Regions from separate parts of the Homo sapiens genome. Here region 2 is linked to region 1. Evidence: fine-mapped expression QTL. A gene starts in region 1. The other region holds a variant in brackets. All regions are shown on one strand. Distances are from middle to middle.

Region 1 (2,912 bases):
CATGTATTAGGCAACTGTAACCAATAATCCACTTTTGCCCATCACAGAATTGATTTAAAATCTCTTACTGTTGACCTAAAAACATAAGTTCTTCATAGCCAAGTTCCACATTAGCTAGGCCTTAAATCAAGGCAACAATTGAGCAGCACAATTCTACTCCTGGGAAAATATTTACCAAAAACTAGCGGAAAATCTTGAATAACTAGTGTCTGTTTTTTTATTGTATTTTTTCTTTGAACGGAGTAGAGTTTACTCATAACTCTCTATACCAATTAAATCATAATGACCAGCTAAAGATTAACAGTTTCTTTAAAAATTACAAACTTACCCCATTCTAGGTATTCGAGAATGTTCTTCTCTCTTCTCAATGGAGAATTATTGCATTCATCATAAAGGCAGATGAGTATATCCAGTAATGTCTCCACACTGAAGCACTGCCCATTGGTCTGAGCGGGCCCGTCCAAAATAAACTGCTCCAACTGCCTCAAACGCACTTCTCCAGACATGTTTGCTTCGATTTCTGCTGGTTTTCCTTTAAATTATTATGATGACTTTTACTATTATCTGAACCTAAATTTTAAAAGGTATGGTTTTAAAAATAAACCACTTGTTATTCAAACAACTGTCATGCAATGCTGGTGCTGAATTAAACATCCAACACACCAGTAACCTCACTTAACTGAAGCGTCTTCAATTTCACCCATATACATATATTTTGAGGGTAAATTACCATAAAATATATACTTAATGCATTTTTAAAAGAATACAATTAAGTCGTATATTTAAATAAAATAATAATTAAAAGTACAACGAACTAGAGAGTCAACACTTCTTTAAAAAAAAAAAAAAAAACTCTTCTCCTTCATTCAAAATTCAACTCGTGCAACGTAATCCTGAAACGAATCCGGTTGCATCATTAATGAATAAAGTCCGATTTGCATCAGCAATTCACTTCCCGGGAAGAAGAAAAACAGAAAAGGGAGGAAAAAAACAGAATGCATAGAAGGGGGAGGGAAAACCAAAAATGTTGCTGCAAATCCTCCCAACCACCACTTGGATAATGCATCAGCGGCAATTTCTCCAGCGGGAAAGGGAGGGGGCGAGGTCCCTGAAGCAGCCCCTCGGCTCGGAGCACGCCAAGTCTTGCCCGGAGGCGGCTTTTCGTTTCTCCTCCCGAGGTCCTTCTTTCTTTAAGGCTTTGCAGTCAGTCCTATTTTCAACGGATTCCGGTGAAAACTCTTCATTTTCCTCCCGGCTTCACCCTAGGGCCTGACCGGCGGCGCGGCCGGGGGTGGAAGGCGGGCTGCGGGCGGCACTGGCACCGGGCTCCGGAGAAGCGGCTACTTGGCCGCCCGAGCCCACTCCATGTCGGTGGTCGCTCGTGGGCCGAGCCGCGCCGCGCCGCGCCGGGCAGAGAGCCCGGTCTCCCCGACACCCGCACCGGGCCGCCGCGCCGGAGGCTCCCGACGCCCCAGGCGGGGGGGTGCTTCTCTGAATTCAAAGGACACAAGCAGCAGCAGCTGCGGCGGCGGCGCGGGCGGCTCTGGCAGCTACTTCTCCCCCTTCTTCACACCCCTGGGCTAAGGGCATCTTTCCACAGCGAGGAGGGAGGCGGCCCGGCGCAGGAGGAGGGGTCGCTTCCGCGGCTGAGGAGACTAGAGGCTGCGGCAGCCCGGCTCCCAACCACTCCCTTCCTCTCCCTTCCAGCCCTCCCCCGCCTTCCCTCTCCTCTCGCGCTCGCGCCCTGGGCTCAGCGAGGCTCCTCCAGTCCCGCCGCACAGAGGCGGAGGCTTGCGGACGAGTCTGGATCCAATATGGCGGCCTGGCCCCCCGGCCCCGGCACACGCGCGCGCACACGCCCTCCACTCCCCGCCCCCGCCCTGCCCGAGCCTCAGCCCCAGCCGGCGGCCAAGCCGGGCGGGGTCCGGCCGGCGCGCCCAGCGGAGGCCCCCAAGGGGGCGCGGGCTCGGGGCCCGAGTGGCTGCGCCAGCCCGAGGGGAGGGGTGTGGACTGCCTAGGCGGCGAGGCTGCGGCTGCCGCAGCGTGGAATGCGGAGCTGCGGGAGGGCTGAGGGAGGCCCGGGCGGCGGTGGCGGAGCATATGGAGGCGGGATGACCGGGCCGCGCCGGGAGCTGCGGCGGGACTGGGCGCAGGCTGGGAACTGCGCCACCGCCGCGCCGTGGCCCCGGCTCCCCGAGGCTTCTGGTGCAGATCGCGAAGGGGGGCTCCTGCTCGTCCTCGGAGACATCACCTGTCTGGCGCGTTTGTTAAGGGCGCCCAGAAGCAGAGGGCTTTAGGCTTCCGACAGAGCTGGAGGAGACGGTGCCTTTCAGCCCCTTACCTGCTCCCCACCGGCCCCCCAGATTCGGTTCGCGCACACTCCAGAGTAATCGTTTCTTAGGTGTCTAATTACAGCACTTCGTGTGTCATTTCCCAGGACAAAAACAATGACAGACTTGTCCGAGCTACCATCGAAGTCTTGGGTCTGCACGCAAAGGATGGAATCCCCCATCTCCATTCCCAAAAGTTTCCCTACGGGAGCCTGGTGTTGTCTCCTCCGGAACTGTCCTCGCGGCTGCCTGTTTTTCCCTAGCCATGGTTACTGCCTGCGGGGGATTCAGCCTGTGAAGGCAGTCAAGGCAGTTCACCACTGTCATCAAACCTACACCCCTGTGTGCATGCGCACACACACTTGTAACCCAGTGGCACAATGCAGGAATTAGGGAAGCAAAGGCAAATCGCTGAATAGCTAGGGCACCTGATCCCTGTAGGGCCCTTCCAGGTTTTTGTGAATCTCGGTTTTAGGAGAGCTCCCTTTATAAAATTCTCATGGAAGATGCCACATTTAAATTAACACCACAAAACTAGGTCATTGCAGTTCTGTTACTTTCTCTCAAAATTGCCATCTCCTT
Region 2 (2,912 bases), 97 kb after region 1:
CTCATGCCTGTAATCCCAGCTATTCAGGAGGCTGAGGCAGGAGAATCACTTGAACCAGGAGGCAGAAGTTGCAGGGAGCCAAGATGGTGCTACTGCACTCCACCCTGGGCAACAGAGTGAGGCTCCGTCTCAAAAGAAATTAAATAAATAAATAAAGTGAGAGATGTGCAACTCTTTTACTTGAACACTTAAGAGGCCACTGTAGGGTTATTAATTGACCTAATTTTAATACTGTTGTATCTCATGGAATAGGGAGGACCCTGAGGAGAGGGAGAGAAATGGGGGAACAGCCAGTCAGTGGGAAGAGCCGGTTGGTGGAGCAATCAGAGCACACACATTTATTGATCAAGTTCATCTTCTTATGTGGGTGCTGCCCATGACTCCCCAAAACAATTACAACAGTAACATTGGAGATCACTGATCACAGATCAGTATAACAGAAATAATAATGATGAAAAAGTTTGAAATATTGTGAGAATTACAGAAACGTGACACAGAGACCATGAAATGAGCACATGCTGTTAGAAAAATGTCAAAGATAGGCTGGGGCATGGTGGCTCATACCTGTCACCCCAGCACTTTGGGAGGCCAAGGTGAGAGAATCACTTGAGCCCAGGAGTTCAAGACAGTCTGGGCAACATAGTGACAGCCTCATCTCTTAAAAAAAAAAAAAAAAGTTAAACCAGGTATGCCTTTAATTGCAGAGCATTCCCAATCACTCAGCCCACCACTGCTCCTTTAAGAAGGCTCTTTGTGATGTTCTGTGGTTCTAGCCCTGCACATTCCCAGTTTCCTCTTGCATGATTCTACCTTCCACTGAAACAGAGCAAGATCTGCTTAAGATCCTATAAAAATGACTTTGGCATGTGCCCTTTGCCTGGGAACAGCTTTTTCAGTTGCTGCTGCTGCTGTGTAATATGTTAGGTTACATGGACTACCATTTTTTGTTAAAGAGAATGACTTCCAAGTTCAGTAGGTGCTTCTTGAAAATATAGTTCCCCGTGATGCAATAATAATTGATTCTGTTATTTCCTATTCTTGTTCTTATGTATGTGACATATGACATGTAACTGAGACACAGTTCCTATATTTAATATTTG[C/T]TGTTTGTTCCACAATCTTTTCATAGATGGGATTAGGTTGAACATTACCCTGTTCTATCTGAATTATATGTAATATGCTATAAATTTGAATAATCCACGGTAAGGTGATTTTAAGCTTAACTCTGCCCCAGCAGGTGATAATTATTTTATTAGAGCATTCTGTATCTAGTCACTCCGCATAGTGTTGACTCTTGGTTTGAAGTCACACCTCATGCCTGTGGTTCAGCATGCATCTTTGGGCCTCAATGTCTTAGAAAAACTTAGCTTAGTGGACTGGATTTACAGACCTGGGGAGGACATGGAAATTTCAAGTTTCTCATCCAGAATCTTCTTCCAACTTGCTGTGTGGCCTTCCACGCGTCATTTCATACTCGCTCGATCATTTCTTCATTTCAGCATGGAAACAGAGCCCATTAGCTTCTCAAGGGCATTGTAAGAAAGGGGAGAGCAGTGGTCAAAAAGGAAACAAACTGAAAAATATCAAGATCCCTTCAATAGTTCTGACCTCTAGTGAAAAAAGGAACAACGTGGTACCGGAAAACCCAGCATGTATATAGCCAAAACCAAAGACTTGTTGTTGTAAAGAAAAGGGAACAATGTCTGATTTTAACATTCACATATTCCAAACCACAGTCTTCCAGGTCTCTCTCCCGCAGCCAAGGCTGATGGTAGCAGCCAGGTCTAGAGGAAAGTTTCCAGAAAGCAGATTTTGGCAAAGGTTGCCTTTAAACCTGCAGAGAATACAATTCCAGTTTTTGGGTTTTTTTTTCTTAAGCACATTTTCATTCCTTTTTGCCACAGAATTTCATGGACTATGTTTATCTTTCCTTTTCAGGTCATGGTATATAGACTTTTCACAGTCAGACGTGAGGAGTAGACATATTTCTTGAGTGTTTTTTTCTTTCTTTCCTTACAAAATTCTTTCAACTTGGAGGTGGAGCCAAATTCTAAGATTATATTTTCAGAGAATCATTTTTCTTATGTGATCATTAAATTACTTCAGAGAAAGAATGAGATATTAAAGTCCACTCTCTGACTGCTTTGAGAAGAGGCTCACATGTGCCAGGTGAAAGGAATAATTATTGATTTTAATTCTATTCCCTGGACAAATGGCCCCTGTGGCCCAGAGTCCTGGCACCCGGAGATGGCAGTGAGCCCTGGGTCTGTTTAGGATAGTTTTGTAAACAACAACAACAACAAAAAAGCCACTGCAAGTGCACTGGTTTTAGAGGAATGTCCAAGAAAATTGCCCTCCTTCTCCTCACAACATGTCATTACAGAAAAATAGAAGTCCCTGCATTCCAATCTGATTTTTATTTAACTCTGCAAGCCTGTAAATTTTGCCATGAGGTAAGGGGCTGATTCAGAGCTCCAGAATCCTTTTGGTGCCACAGACACTATTTCAAAATGGATATGCTTTTGGGTTTCTTAGTGTTATTCTGCTAGGGTCATGGAATAAATGGGGCTCTGTCTGAGGAGAACTCCCAGTCCTGGTAAACAAGAACCAGGATGCCTGGTGGTCAAAGTAGCTGCCTTGCGTTTTAAAGGTTAGGAGTTCAAATCTTGTGGGTTTGAGCTTGGGTTAAAGTATCCACGTATCTAGGTTGAAGAAGCAATAACGTCGCACAATGGAATCTGGCTTACCCATATCTAATTTCTGGCTACAATTAATTAAATACATACTTCCTATGGAATTCTTTACCTTGTAGATCGTGGACAAAGGGTCCACATTCCAGAGGGCACAGGAAAGCTTTACTTTCCAAGCTTCCTGGGCTGTACAGTGTATATAGACTTGAATTCTACCACATAGGC

What was found.
Region 2: its variant is fine-mapped to the expression of CDC42BPA in whole blood (TOPMed, PIP above 0.99).

The regions. Positions count from the first base shown.
Region 1 is chr1:227,316,677-227,319,588 of GRCh38, forward strand. CDC42BPA (CDC42 binding protein kinase alpha) reads right to left here and starts at 1,816. Exons shown (of 37, transcript NM_001394014.1): 1 at 329-1,816. The coding sequence starts at 506. LOC124904531 (a long non-coding RNA gene) reads left to right here and starts at 1,916. Exons shown (of 2, transcript XR_007066911.1): 1 at 1,916-2,322; 2 at 2,438-2,912.
Region 2 is chr1:227,413,822-227,416,733 of GRCh38, forward strand. The region is part of intron 3 of LINC01641 (long intergenic non-protein coding RNA 1641); the gene reads left to right. It also overlaps the pseudogene NUCKS1P1. Among named protein-coding and RNA genes, the nearest start is that of LINC01641, 22 kb to the left of the region's middle. The variant C/T (reference allele first, on the strand shown) is at 1,101.